Linked DNA regions of Homo sapiens. The protein of the gene in region 2 purifies or fractionates together with the protein of the main gene of each other region. This does not show direct contact. Each region holds a gene or a part of one and is shown on either strand. Other genes may lie near its edges.

Region 1 (3,500 bases), on a different chromosome or scaffold from region 2:
TCCTTTTGTTAAAAGAATGACCCTGGGCCCTCCTGGCCAGGGCCTGAGCACATTTCAGTCTGTTATGCAGGCTGAGAGGCCAGGCTCCTCCAAGGCCCCATGAGCTACTGGTTGTTGCAGCCCTGTGAGGCAGAGGAGCTGCCTGCCTGCTTTTTTCTCCTCTTGTTGAGGAGCCGGTTGTTAGAGGTCTTCAGGTCCTTGATCTTCACCTGGTCGTAGTCTACCCGCATAGTGGCCAAGGCACTGGTCATCTCCTCCTGGGGACAGACAGGATGGTGGGCACTAAGAGGTCAGGATGTACTGACCTTAGGAACCATCACCCCCCTGCCTGGGCAGCCCCTTAATGTCAGTGACAGCCTGTGCTGCCTCTGTGCCCACTGTGTGCCCAGCACTGGGCCAAGCCCTTTGCATCACATGATCCTCACTACCGTCCTCTGTGGTAGACACTGAGCTTATTCACTAAGGCACAAAAGGAGAGTTACTCCCTCGGACCACACCAAGGGTAAGTGGGATAGTGAACTAAACCAGTTCCACCACAGAACCACAAGACCTGCAGAGAATGCCATCTCGCTGGGCAACCAGCGCACTGGGGCCTGGAGATTGTGCCACTGGAGCTGCTACTCCATATGTTCAAACGTGGCCTCTGCTGGGTCTAAACCAGGCTGACCACCCTCCCAAATGTTGTTGGTTATAAGAGAGGTCATCATCCAAGCTTGGTACCAAAGCCCCGTTTCATTGAGGAAGTGAGCCAGGAGCACCACACTGAATGGCGTAGTGAGGCCCAATCCTTGGAGTGCCATGGTTGGACCACTGCGACAGTCACTGACACCCTGTGCTCCAGGTATAGAAAGGGGCCAAAGACCCCAGACCCTGGGTAGCCACCCCCCTGAAGTCCCTTTTGCCCAAATCCTGGCACCTGTATTGAGACTGAGGCAGAGCCCACCCACCTTGACTTCGTCCCAGTGGTCTTTGTCCTCCTGCAGCACTCGGGCCGTGTGGAGTGGGGTCTGTGGCACTACCATCGATTGCTGGAAGGAGCCCCACGCCCGTGGATTAGAAACTGGAGGCACCTGGGACAGCACTGGTTCCCCCTACTCCATCCTCTTCTCCCAGACTCAGATGGAAAAACCAAGGCTCAGGGTGGGGAAGGAGCCTCACTAGGGCAGTGACAAAGCCAGGTTGTAGGTGAGGCCCTAGTATCTACCTGTGTGCATGGGCCCATTCCAGCCCTGCACTGGGGCCTCAAAGCAGAGCCACCACCCTCCTGCCCGGCAGCCCCACTCCTGTTGGACACCCTGCCTGCCATGGGAGGAGGAGGGGCTCACGTTGATCCAGGGGTGGTTCATGAACTGAGTGATGGTCAGCCTCTCTGTGGGGTCTGTCTTCAACAGGAGGCGGATCAGCTGCTTGGCTAGGGGGGCCAGGGAAGAGAGGGGAGAGATGAGATTGCAGAGCCAGCCCCTCCACCCTTCCCCACAGACCACAAGCTCTGCTGGGGCAGGGGCTGCATGTGCTCCCAAATTCCCAACCCACAGAAAGAGTGAGCTAACAACTATTTCTTGTTTTGAAACACTAAGTGTTCAGGATAATTGGTTAAGCAGCAGTAGATAACTCATACAGGGCAGCCTTGTTTGTGGTCCTCAAAGGGGAAAATATGAATGAGGAATAGGAGTTAGAGGGAGTTTTGAGGAGGCAAGTTTTGAGCCTGTTTGGCAGATGTAGAAACTGAGGCTCAAGAAGGTTAGGGGACTTGCCTAGGGTCCCATAGCTGGAAAGAGGGGGAGCCAAGATTTGAACACAGGTCAGTTTGACACCAAAGTGATGTTTCCCAGAATGAAAGCCGCAGGGGCCAGGTGAGTCAGGCTGGGACAGAGAGGTTCACTCACCATCCTCAGAGACTTCTGACCACTCAGGATTGGGGAAGCCGTACTGGCCCAGGCGAATCCTCCTCTTCATCCCCGGGGAGATGGCCTGGCCCGTGTTGGAGTAGAAGGGTGGGAAGCCACAAAGGCTGGGGGAAGGGGTAAGTCATTTGGCATAGGGTGGGAGCAGTGCCAGGGTGGACCCATTTCCCCTCAAAAGCCCCTGACTGGGGAGACAGACAACCAGACACCATAGCAATAATACCAGCCCTCCGGACTCCCAGGCACATCCCAGGAATGCCATCAGCCCTTGGCATGGGGAGACCCTCAGGCACCTGAAGGAGTGGTGTCCCATGACCAAAAGGGAAGGGCAGCCTGCATGAGGAGTGACACACACAAGCTCCTCACCAAGGACATGGGGGTGGGGGGACAGAAGTGGTCCTGAGGGCTCACAGTGGGGGTAAGGGCAGGAGATGGAGGCAGGGGGTGGGGAAGGTACTCACAGGATGTACATGATGACACCCAGGGACCACATGTCACATGACTTGTCATACTTCTCTGGACCCAGGACCTCAGGGGCTGCCAGGGCAGAGGGACAGCAGGGCTCTCAGACCCAAGGGTCTTGGAGCCCAGGCAGGAGCCTAAAGCCTGGGCAAGGTGGGGAGCAGGTACCTGGGCTGGGAGGTAGGGCAGAGCAGACTGGCGTCTGGCACCTTTTGGAAAGGCAGCATGTGTGTGAAGTTGGGGGAGGAGAAAGCTCCTGGAAAAAAATCAACCACTTTCAGACATACCCCTAGCTCCCTTGGGCCTGAGCCCCTCTACCAGTCTCAACCTTGGTGAAAGAAGAGAAGAGAAGGCCAGTCTGGGGCTTGGTGGGAAGCTACCGTAGGTGAGAGGGTCTTGGCCTGCCAGCTGTCCTGTGTCCCTTGCCTCCCTGAATGCATAGCCTAGGTCACAGGCAAGGAAGAACCAGGGACAGGGCTCTGCATTCCATCATCAGCTTGGCTACCAATCCATGGAGCCTTTGTCTTCCCTGTGCAATGAGGTGGGTAGGCTAGAAGATTTCTAAGTTAAAATACTTAGTGCAAAACACATCCTAGTTAACAGAGTGCCATTTCAACTGTCTCAGGGAACTTCCCACCCCTTCAGCAGCCCTCCAGGAAGACCTCTTCTGAGGGAGAAAAGCCCTCTGTCATCACCCCACTCTCAGGTTAGGGGGCAGTTTTGGCAAGGAACATTTTCAGATCCGGGGGTTGCCCACTTGCAGAAGGGCAGTGAACTTTTCCAGGAAGCATGAGTATGTGCACACCTCCAAGCCCTGGCTTTAGTGACCGTCTCCCACAAGGCAGGTGACTGGTACCCTTTGTCCCTCCAAGTTAGGAGGAAATGCATGCCCACTTTCTGAATATGAATCCCAGGAAGACAAAAACTAGAGAAAAACAACCGCGGTTGGGCTCCGTCCCAAGCTGATGGCAGCCTTTTATCACATATATATTTAGAGCTGCTGTGATGTCATTCAGCTCACAGGCCACAGCCAGAATTTTCCTGGATCTATTTTCAAAAGCAGAAGCTGAAGTTTGGGAGAATATTTTTGCAGCCTCCGGCCCCCCACGTCACCCGCCTCCATGCAGACAGAAT
Region 2 (3,500 bases):
GGCGGGCGGATCACCTGAGATCAGGAGTTCAAGATTAGCCTGGCCAACATGGCAAGACCCCCTCTCTACTAAAAATACAAAAATTAGCCGGGTGTGGTGGCGGGCGCCTGCAGTCCCAGCTACTTACGAGGCCAGGGCAGGAGAATCGCTCGAACTCAGGAGGCAGAGGTTGTAGTGAGCCAAGACTGTGCCAGTGCACTCCAGCCTGGGCGACAGAGTGAGACTCAGCCTCAAAAAAAAAAAAAAAAAAAAAGTGATGGAAGTCATGGAGAAGCCGGAGTGGAGTCACCCCAGAAGGAAATGAAATGCTTATGTTCTAGTTAAAGATGCGTATTGATGATGATATTTCTGAAATCTACTACAACAAAAGCAGAGATCTTCTTTTTTTTTTTTTTTTTTAAAGCATAATCCCACAAGGACAAAGGAAACAAGAAGAGGATGACAGCAACAAGGTTTCAGAAGCCAGAAAGCTGATGAATGATCAGTGCCTAACAGCATGAGAGAAAAACAAATGCTAAGACATCATGGAAATACTGGAAGGTGACCGAGTGTACACTGTTACGGAATCACCCAAAGGTTCGGGCCTTAGTGACCTTGCGCACTTACAGGAGTGGGGGCAGGAAAGCGGGTTATGAAAACAGGAGCGCTGGTTGAAGTCTCTTCAAGAAGCAGTTATTGAGAATCCCTCTCCCCTCGGCCAAGGGAGTGTCACAGTTTCCCCTCCATTCCAAGGTTTCATGTCAAGAGAGGACAGAGTTACAGGTGCCTAGACTGGGGGCAGTCTGCACAGTTGGGGCACTGGCAGCACACAGAGAATAGGGAGCTTCGGGGAAGGATCCCACAGCCCAGCCCTTCTCTCCCACTCAGCCGTAGAACTCTGGCAGCGGGACTCACCCCCTCTGAACAGTGGACTGGGGGAGCTTTCTCTGGGGAATCTCACTTAACTTTAAAGAAAAGATCTAAAGACCTTGACACGAAAGATTCCCCAACAAAAGGGGAGCAGCCTGGTCACTCTCCAGGAAGTGGAACCTATGTTGATAAGCTCTTCCCCAATGAAGAGTGCATCCAGCAGCTTTCAGTGCACCCCCCAAAACACCAGCAAATAGCCAAGAAACACCAAACAGTTGAGAATTGCCTCTAATATGAAAGGCAGGTAGAAAACAAATTAAGATGGAAGAAACTGAGGTTATAAAGGATGTAGAGGACATATGGAAAACTACCATTAAGATCTCAGAGAGAGAGAGTTGAGTGTCCTGAGAGGTCAGATTGCTGTCAGACATGGCCCATGGACATGGACATGAGCATGGACATCGTAAAATGGAACTTCTAGATTACAGACAACGGAAGACAGAAGGGACACCATTAGAAACTATCCAGAAGAAGCTGGCTGAAAAAGGGCTAAGGGATCCGTGGGGCCACAATGAAGCTTGAAGATACATGGGTGGCTTTGCAAAGAGTGTTTCCTTTTTTGATGTATTGTTTAAAGGATTCAAATGGGGATTTGCTGCATTTGTGGTAGCTGTAGGAGCTGAATATTACCTGGAGTCCCTGAATAAAGATAAGAAGCATCACTGAAGATAATACCTGGAAGTATCATAGTGGTTTCTTAACTCTCCAAAATAAGATTTCTTCACTGTAGCCTACTCGTCTGGTTTGTCCCTTACAGAATATTAGTAAGATTTAATACAGTAAAATAAGATTAAAAAAAAAAATCTCAGAGAGAAAAGGGTGGTACTGTACCTATGAGTCAGGGCAGAGTGCTGTGAGGAAACTTCAGGGAGCATACATGCTCCTGGAAGTTAAAAATGATAGCAGAAATGGAAAACAATAGGAGGGTTAGAAAATCAGAGAAACAGTCTCTGAATTAAAAAAAAAAGTCTGTGAAGAGAGAAAACAGAAGAGATCAAAGAAATCATGATTTCTGAGAATTAACGGCCATGAGTTTCTAGTCTAAAAGGCAGGCTGAGTGTGGTGGCTCACGCCTGTAATCCCAGCACTTTCGGAGGCCGAGGTGGGCAGATCATGAGGTCAGGAGTTTGAGATCAGCCTGGCTAATATAGTGAAACCCCGTCTCTACTAAAAATACAAAAATTAGCCTGGTATGGTGGCGGATGCCTGTAATCCCAGCTACTTGGGAGGCTAAGACAGGAGAACTGCTTGAACCCAGGAGGCGGAGGTTGCGGTGAGTCGAGATTGTGCCACCACACTCCAGCCTGGGTGAAAGAGTGAGATTCCATCTCGGGGGGCGGGGGTGGGGTGGCAAAAAAAAAAAAAAAAAAAAAAAGAAAGGCATACTGAACCTGCATCCCATGAAATTTCAGAACACGGGAACAAAGAAGATCCTGCTAACTTCCAAAAAGAAAAAACAAAGGAATGGCAACTGACTTCTCTGCAGCAAGCCCAGAAGCTAGGTGCCAATAGAGCAGTGGCTTCAGCATTTCCAGGGGAAATCACTTCCATGCTAGAACCCTACACCCAGCCTGGCTATCAATCATGTTTTAGGTAAAATAAATACGCTTTCAGATGGGCAAGATCCCCCTAGAAATATTTCCTTTGCAATATTTTTTTCAGAAACAATTGGAAGATTTGCTCTGCCCAAAGAGTAAAGCAAAGAGGAATAAAGATGCAGGAGCAGGAAACGGGGCACCCAATCGACAGGGGTGAAAGAACCCCTTGGGTCGACAGTGAAGAAAGACGCCAAGATGGGCAGTGTAGGAAGCAAGAGCCCCCACTTCAGAGGGAAGCAGGCAGAAGGTTTTGGGAGAGATCGCCTCAAGAAGATGAACTTGATAGACTAGTTGATGTGTGTTGAAAGGAGATTCACTGGACAGGGAAAGGGCTTGGAGATACATTATCATTAGTATCATTGACATAAAAAAGTCAAGCAAACAGATATTAAGACAAATATTAACTCCAGAGAAAACAAAAGCTGGGCGAGAAAGTTAGAGTACTCATTCTATCCGTGATGGTTCAGCTGTCCACGTCTATTTCCATGGTCATAATAATGTCAGTGTACAGATACTGACCTAACTACAACTGCAATACAGATGGGGAGACTGCCTGGACGGGAAGTGGTTGTGAAGGTACGAATGCTTCATTTCCACCTGAAAGACCCCAACTTGAAAATCAACAAGGAACAATATGATAAGCAGAATATTTACAGATATGGGGAGTACATAACCAAAAGATCGGCTAAAAGAATTGAGCAGGAAATAGGGAGAGGTGGGCTGGAGGGCCACTGTATTTCACAAAGGCTTTGAGAACCCCTGACTCTTTAGACCACAGGCATCCCAATGTTGATAAAGGAAAAATACATTTAAAACTATAACCAAGGCTGGCGTGGTGGCTCATGCTGGTAATCCCAGCACTTTGGGAGGCCAAGGTGGACAGATCACCTGAGGTCAGGGGTTTGAGACCAGCCTGACCAACGTGGTGAAACCCCCATCTCTACTAAAAATACAAAATTAGCTGGGTGTGGTGGTGCATGCCTGTAATCCCAG
Region 3 (3,500 bases), on a different chromosome or scaffold from region 2:
TGTGGATGATGAAAACTGAGGCCCTGGAAGATTAAGAGACTTGTGCTTCCTGCTCTACTGGGCCTTTCAGCCAAGTGCTCTCCCAGAACAAAGTGGCTTTTCCTGCTGCATTTCCCTCTGCACCTTCCCCTCTTCCATTCTAATGAGAAATGAAGGGACAGAGAGAGGAAGGGGAAGGAAACGTTCGGGCCCATCCCTCCCGGGGTGTCACCGCCAGGAGTGGGTTGAACTGTGGCCCCCCAGGGGCTCCCATCCATTCAAAGACATGGTCAAGGTCCAGGCCTTGGAACCCATGATTGTGACCTTACTTGGAAAACGTCTTTCTTTATAGATTCATTAAGGATCTCCAAATGGGATCATCCACTTAGGGTAGGCCCTAAGTCCAAAGACAGGCATCCTTGTCCAAAGACAAGAAGGAAAGAGGGCAGGCTCGGTGGCTCATTCCTGTAATCCCAGCACTTTGGGAGGCCAAGCAAGGTGGGCAGATCACCTGAGGTCAGGAGTTTAAGACCAGCCTGGCCAACATGGCGAAATCCTGTCTCTACTAAAAATACAAAAATTAAGTCAGGTGGGTGGTACGTGACTGTAATCCCAGATACTCGGGAGGCTGAGGCAGGAGAATTACTTGAACCCAGGAGGCAGAGGTTGCAGTGAGCTGAGATTGCAACACTGCACTCCAGCCTGGGTGACAGAACGAGACTCCGTCTCAAACAAAAAAAAAAAAAAAAAAAAAGGAAGAGGAGGGACGGGACAGAGACACAGGGAAGAAGGCCCTGTGACAATGGGGCAGAGATTAGAGCATGTGATGCCTTTACAATACAACTAGGAATGCCAGGCGCCACCAGAAGGAGGAAGGCATGGATGAGGCTGGTCCTCAGGGCCTCAGAAGGAAACAGCCCCTGATTTCGGACCTCTGGCCTCTGGAACTGTGAAAATACGTTTGTGTTGTTTTAAGTCCCCTCGTTTGTGCTAATTGGTTACAACAGCCACTCAAGAGACTAAGGTGTGAGGGTCCCAGGAACTTCAGCAGGGTAAGGGGCCGAGGGTCCATCTGGCTCACAGAGCTACAGCCCACCCCTTTTCTAGGCCCAGAGAGGTTGGGCGATTTGTCCAGGGCCACACAGGTGCCTATGAAAGAGCCTGCACCAGGATCCAGAACTTGGCGGCCCCCATCCCAGCTCCTGTCTCCCTGAATCTTTCCCTGCCCGGGGGGAGGTCTGGGGTGGAGGCATCTGCACAGGCCACTTGCCCTCTCACTTTCCCAAGGGTTGAATGGGGACAAGGAGACCCCTCCCTCTGGGTGGGGCAAGGCAGTGGATGAGGTTCCACGAGTCCCTGGCTCAGGCGTGGCCCACAGGCTCTGGGTCAGCAGAAGAGACTGTCTTCCCATCTGTCTGGAGCCCCGGCGCCTGCGGCGAGTACCTTCGATGGTACCCCACTTGGTCTTCCTCCCAAGGATCCTCTTGCCGTTGACCTGGTACTCGTGGTCACTGCCCACCACAGCAAATGGGATCATCTCCTGGGGAACGGGCAGACGGTATTGGTTACACATGTGCGGGAAGGCAATTCCCTCCCCTGGGCCCCCGGGAGGAGCTGCCCTGAGCCTGGGGTCCCCCAAAAACGAGAGCCTCAGCCTGACAGCACTGGGTACAGACACCTGGGCTCAGTGCCCTCTGGCCCCAAGAATATAATTTCATGGCTTAAGGTCCTCCAAACCCCCAACCCACCCTTCAGCAGGAACTGGGGGTCCCCTGGGAACAACATCCTAGTGGATCCACTCACCCGGAACTTCTCGTTCACCAGCCGGTCCTCCGAGTCCTCATCAAATTCCTTCTGGGGGTACACGTCGATGCCGTTGGACAGCAGGTCTGCGGTGATCTGGGATAAGGAGGGAGAGAGATGGGCCCATCCCTGTGGCAAGCTCTACCCACCCACTGGTGTTTGCCACATGACCTCCACACTGTGTGCTGCCCCAGGCTCGGGTTCAAGGGCAGGCTCTGGGGGGCTGTGACACCAATCACCTCCAACTCCTGTGCCTCCTGGAGGGAAGAGGGGCAGCTGCAGGTGCACCTGCTGTCCTGAGCGACGCTGCAACTCCCCAGGGGCTTAAGGTCATCGTCCTGAGCACCTCCCACCTCTCTTCTCCTGCTCATCACAGCCCCAAGAAAGTACTCAGGGTTACCGAGACCTCCCCTCCTGAAACCCTTCCTAAAAAACCCTCGTCACAGTCCCCAGTTCCAGCAGGGGCCCCGCCTGCAGTAACCTCTCAGCTCCCTGCCAGCAGCCCGACATGGGTACGTGCAACAGAAACATCCCAGTGAGCGGCTGCTCGCCTGCCCAGGCACAGACCACAGCCCGTGTGTAGCCTCCGGCAGACACACCCACTTTGTGTGGACTGTCTTCCCCTGCACATGCTGGGAAGGTCCCTGACACCTGGCCCCAGGACGGAGTAGGTTACAGGCCCCACCCACACCCACCGAGGCAGATGTGGTGCCGCAGCCCAGGCACCTCGGTTTCATTTTGAAAGGCACCCCATGTGGCTCTGATGTGCTGCCCTGTCAGGAGGAAGAGCCCAGGGCTGCCCTCTTGCTTGGATGCCCCTCCCTATCCCACAGCAGGGGCCTCAGACGGTGGCGGAGAAGAAGGTGGCAGAGACCATCCCTCCTGAAACTTTTTTTTTTTTTTTTTTTTTTGAGATGGAGTCTCGCTCTGTCACCCAGGCTGGAGTGCAGTGGCTCAATCTCGGCTCACTGAAGCCTCCGCCTCCCGGGTTCAAGAGATTCTCCTGCCTCAGCCTCCCAAGTAGCTGGGACTACAGGCGCCCGCCACCATGCCCGACTAATATTTTTGTATTTTTAGTAGAGATGGGGTTTCATCATGTTGGCCTCAAACTCCTGACCTCAAGTGATCTGCCCGCCTCGGCCTCCCAAAGTGCTGGGATTACAGGCGTGAGCCACCACACCTGGCCCAGCTTCTCTTCCATCTAATAAAAACCAGGCAGGGCGAGGTGAGGTGGCTCATGCCTGTAACCCCAGCACTTTGGGAGGCTGAGGCAGGAGGATCCCTTGAGCCCAAGGGTTAGAGACCAGCCTGGGCAACATGGCAAAACCTCGTCTCTACTAAAAATACAAAAATTAGCCAGACATGGTGGTGTGCGTCTGTAATTCCAGCTACTCGGGGACTGAGCCTGGGAGGTGGAGGCTGCAGTGAGCCATGATTGTGCCACTACATTGCAACCTTGGCAACTGAGCCAGACCCTTTCTCAAAAAAAAAAAGGGGGGGCATAAAACAAGGTGGGCCATGTCGCACGGCCCCTGCTCGGCCTCACTCCCTGGAAGAGAGATTCACCATCTGCCTGGTCCAGGTCTTCTCCAAAACCCCCCTCAGAGACTCTGCTGGAGAATTGGCACTCCCACAAAGCTGCTTTTGAGATATGGGGGAGCTGGAGAGGCCATCTCAGGGACGGCCCCCAGCAGCCACCTGGGCCAGGGACCACCAGG
Region 4 (3,980 bases), on a different chromosome or scaffold from region 2:
TATCACAAGTCTCTGTACGCCTTTGATCCCCAGTTTCCACATCAATAAAATGGCGGTAATCATATCTGACGATTGGGCGGGATTCTATGAAATAATGCGCACAAAGCTCTGGCAAAACCCTATGTAATGGAAGATGTTACTGATGACCAGCACTCAAGTCCTTCCTCCAGCCTCCGCATGGAAAGTTCCCAAGTGTCCCTAGAAGTCTGGAACACTCTAATGTTGACTGGAAAGAATAAGATGGATCTCTTTTTCTGATATGGAAGCGTCCCAAATCCAGTCATACCAGCTGGGAGGCAGTGCCCGCTAGCGGTAAAAAGCATGGATTTTGGATTTGGACAGATCCCCCTGAATTGAAGGCACAAGGGAAACCACTTGTGCCTCTGGCCAAGTTAATTTTTCTCTCCAAGCGTCAGTTTCTCCACCTGTTAAAAAGTAACGGCAAACCTACCTCACTGGAGCTTAATAAGGATTAAGTGAAATAATGCAGGTCAAATATCCGAGCCTTGATATATATAAGCCTCATGTGTATGTGTTCCCATTTATGTAAAATAACAGTGTAAGCATATTCAAAGAAAGCAATTCAGAATGTACTCTTAAACTAAGCAATGGTTATCTTGGTGTGGGGAGTTGGGGAAACCAGGGGCCTGCCTTTTTCTCTATTATATAATGCTGCAAAGTTTGATCTTTAAAAAAGGACATTAAAAAGCCCAATTGTACTTTAAACAACACAAGTTTTAATACTTGGGTAAATAAATGGCATCTAAACAAAGAAAGAAACTGAAGGCAGAGCCAGGCCCAACCCTAGGAGACTGAGGAAGCGATTCTGCTTTGCCTGCCCCCAGCTCAACCCCTGCACTAAAACCCCCCGGCCCCAGCCCCAAGGTCCAGGGGGTTGTATTCCTGGGGGCGACCCGGCGCCCCTCAAGTCTCCCTCCTCTTGCACACACACACACACAAACCAGACTCGAATCCCCGCCTCCCAAGGGAAAGTGTTTTTTAAGGTCTGTTCCAGGGCCTGCCGGGGCCAGGGACCGAGGTGGGACTGAGTGGCCGGAACTCCTCCACCTGGGAGAGTCGGTCCGGGTAGCTGCGGCCAAGCTGAGTCAGCCCGGCGGGCGGCGCACGCGGCGCCGCGTGACCCGCAGCCACGTGACCCGCGCGGGGCCGGGCCGCCGGCGCAGTCGCTGCAGCCGCCGCGGGAGGCGTCCGTGTAAGTGGGTAGCAGGGCTGGCGGGGACCTTCCTCGCGGGCCGGAGCGCGGAGCGCTGCCCCAGCCCTACGGCACTCGGGGTCGGGACCCCGGGGAGCCGCCCTCACACATTTTCCAGGAGGGATCGGAGGGGCGATGGGGTGGTAATGGGGGTGGGGGACACGCTGTACCCCACCGACGACCGCGCGGGCCACCTTCGCCTCTTTCCTTCACACTCCCACTAACCGCAGTGCTGGGGGAACAAAATGTCCTCCTTCTGGAGCGATTACCTTTTCCCTTTTGTGCTTTGGGGGAAACTGAAGACCCAGAGGGGTTCGCAAAGCAAGGTGGGCCAGTAGGAAGACCCCTCCGCTAGTCCAGAGAGAGCACACAGCTCCCCAGGCAGAGCTCATTGCCCCACCTGCTCTAGTGGCCCAGCATGATCCCATGACCTCTCTACTTCTGGAGGAAGAGTCTTGGGGTAGACGGCGGGGAGGGGGTAGGGTATCCCGTTCCGGTAGGGGCAGGGATGAGGGAGGCGGGGCTGAGCCGAGCATCTATCTGGATGGTAACAGCCAACGTAGAAAATACTAAGTTGTTTACATGCATTCTCTCATTTCATATTACCCGTCGTGAAGTCTGTGAAGTAGGTACTATTGTCCCAATTTTTACATAGGAGGAAACGGCTCAGAGAGAACTTAGGTCCTTTGACCGAGGTCCTGCAGGTGGTAAGTGAAGGAGCTGAGATTAGAACCCAGATCTGCCCCCAGTGGCGCCTCCTCGTGGTCTGTGGGTGGTGGAGACGACTGGCCTAGCCTCTTAGCTCCTCTGTGAATAGAAAGGCCTTTTTCCTGGCTCAGACAGCTTGGGAAGGGGATTGTTGCTGGGTAAGAGAAGCTTCTCCCACCACCTCCATCTCTTTCTCTGCCCCTTACCATTGATTCCTTTCTGTCATCCCCTCTCCCCCACTGCAGGACAAGATGAAGCTCATCATCCTGGAGCACTATTCTCAGGCGAGCGAGTGGGCGGCTAAATACATCAGGAACCGCATCATCCAGTTTAACCCAGGGCCAGAGAAGTACTTCACCCTGGGGCTCCCCACTGGTGCGTTCTTGGATGGAGAGGGTGCCGTGGATAAGGGTGGAGAGAGTAGGCAACAGGGGCCAGGTACACCGGCTCACTCAGCCAAGGGACTTCACGGGGGCTCTGGGGTACTGGTGCTGAGAGAGCACCTTCCTGCCCCTTCCACATACAAAGGACCCAGCTTCCCTTATGGGTTGGTTTAGTCGCTGCCTGTCCCTGCAGAATCCTGGAGCAGAAGGGATCTTGGTTGGCAGGAAGAATTTGATTTTTAGGCTACATCCTAAGTCAGCCCTGTCCACCAGGGTTTCTTAACAGAATTAAGTCCTGATACCCTAAGGCATTCATTTTATGTAATGAATTAATTTCTCTTCTCTGCATCTAGAGGGGTACCAGCTAAGTACCATCCTTGGGAGAATTGAAAAGATAGTCACTTAGGTAATTTTCTGTAAGGCTTAATTAAACACAGGACCTAAATAAAAAACAGTTCTAATTTCTTTTGGAAAAAATCAAAATGTTGCTTTTTCAGAAAGATATTTTGACCCCAGCTCCTCAAGACAAATGTCCTGATTATTTCTTTCAGAGATGGATGGGTTTGCCCTAGTGGCCCTACCTGACCCATCCATTAGCGTGTCTATGTGTGTGTGTGTGTGTTGGAGGGGTCTTCAAACTTGTTCTTTTTCCTTTTTTTTTTTTTTTTTGGTCTTCCTTGCAGTCCAGACTTTTTCTGTAAATGGCCAGTAGTAAATATGTTAGACTTCACTAGCCATATAGTCTCTGTTGCAACAACTTAACCCTTCTGTTGTTTGAAAGCAGCTATAATTAGCCTGGCATGGTGGCGCTCACCTGTAGTCCCAGCTTCTTGGGAGGCTGAGGTAGGTGGATTGCTTGAGCCAGTAGATTGAGGCTGCAGTGAGCCATGATTGTGTCACTGTACTCCAGTCTGGGTGACAGTGAGACCCTGTCTCAAAAAAAGAAAAGACAATATATAAGTGAATGAGTATGGTTGTATGCCAATAAAACTGTATGGACACTGAAGTTTGAACTTATATAATTTTCACATGTCACAAAATATTATTCTTCTTTAATTAAAAAAAAAACTATTTAAAAATGTAAAAACCAGGCCAGGCATGGTGGCTCATATCTGTAATTTCAGCACTTTGGGAGGCTGAGGTAGGCAGATTGCTGGAGCCCAGGAGTTTGAGATTAGCCTGGGCAACATGGCAAAACCCCATCTCTACAAAAAATAGAAAAATTAGCTAGGCATGGTGGCACATGCCTGTAGTCCCAGCTACTGAGGAGGCTACGGTGTGAGGTGTGAGTATTGCTTGGGCCAGGAGGTCGAGGCAGTGAACCATGATTGTGCAATTGCACTCCAGCCTAGGTGACAGAGCAAGATTCTGTCTCAAAAAAAAAAAAAAAAAGAAAGAAAAGAAAACCATTCTTAACTCATAAGCTGTATAAAAACAGGCCACAGGGCCGGGTGTGGTGGCTCACGCCTGTAATCCCAGCACTTTGGGAGGCTGAGGTGGGTCGATCATTTGAAGTCAGGAATTTGAGACCAGCCTGGCCAACATGGTGAAACCCTGCCTCTACTAAAAATATAAAAATTAGCTGGGCATGGTGGCGGGCACCTATAATCCCAGCTACTCAGGAGGCTGAGGCAGGAGAATCAATTGAACCCAGCAGATAGAGGTTACAGTGAGCT

The links. The genes of interacting proteins can lie anywhere in the genome.
Region 1: the proteins of WARS1 (region 2) and MAPKAPK3 fractionate together in Homo sapiens (co-fractionation; one large-scale study listed by BioGRID). This does not show direct contact.
Region 3: the proteins of WARS1 (region 2) and SEPTIN9 fractionate together in Homo sapiens (co-fractionation; one large-scale study listed by BioGRID). This does not show direct contact.
Region 4: the proteins of WARS1 (region 2) and GNPDA1 fractionate together in Homo sapiens (co-fractionation; one large-scale study listed by BioGRID). This does not show direct contact.

What each region holds. Positions count from the first base shown.
Region 1 is NC_000003.12:50,644,651-50,648,150, reverse strand, and holds part of MAPKAPK3 (MAP kinase-activated protein kinase 3), read right to left. Parts: intron 2,442-3,500; coding exon 2,366-2,441; intron 2,012-2,365; coding exon 1,887-2,011; intron 1,412-1,886; coding exon 1,326-1,411; intron 1,029-1,325; coding exon 948-1,028; intron 258-947; coding exon 105-257; 3' UTR 1-104. UniProt on the Homo sapiens protein: Stress-activated serine/threonine-protein kinase involved in cytokines production, endocytosis, cell migration, chromatin remodeling and transcriptional regulation.
Region 2 is NC_000014.9:100,365,348-100,368,847, forward strand, and holds part of WARS1 (tryptophan--tRNA ligase, cytoplasmic), read right to left. Parts: intron 1,697-3,500; exon of another isoform or gene 1,241-1,696; intron 1-1,240. UniProt on the Homo sapiens protein: Catalyzes the attachment of tryptophan to tRNA(Trp) in a two-step reaction: tryptophan is first activated by ATP to form Trp-AMP and then transferred to the acceptor end of the tRNA(Trp).
Region 3 is NC_000017.11:77,490,999-77,494,498, reverse strand, and holds part of SEPTIN9 (septin-9), read right to left. Parts: intron 1,879-3,500; coding exon 1,783-1,878; intron 1,520-1,782; coding exon 1,423-1,519; intron 1-1,422.
Region 4 is NC_000005.10:142,010,228-142,014,207, reverse strand, and holds the start of GNPDA1 (glucosamine-6-phosphate deaminase 1), read left to right. Parts: upstream 1-1,180; 5' UTR 1,181-1,213; exon of another isoform or gene 1,214-1,458; coding exon of another isoform or gene 1,459-1,539; intron 1,540-1,868; exon of another isoform or gene 1,869-1,920; intron 1,921-2,166; coding exon of another isoform or gene 2,167-2,172; coding exon 2,173-2,296; intron 2,297-3,980. UniProt on the Homo sapiens protein: Catalyzes the reversible conversion of alpha-D-glucosamine 6-phosphate (GlcN-6P) into beta-D-fructose 6-phosphate (Fru-6P) and ammonium ion, a regulatory reaction step in de novo uridine diphosphate-N-acetyl-alpha-D-glucosamine (UDP-GlcNAc) biosynthesis via hexosamine pathway.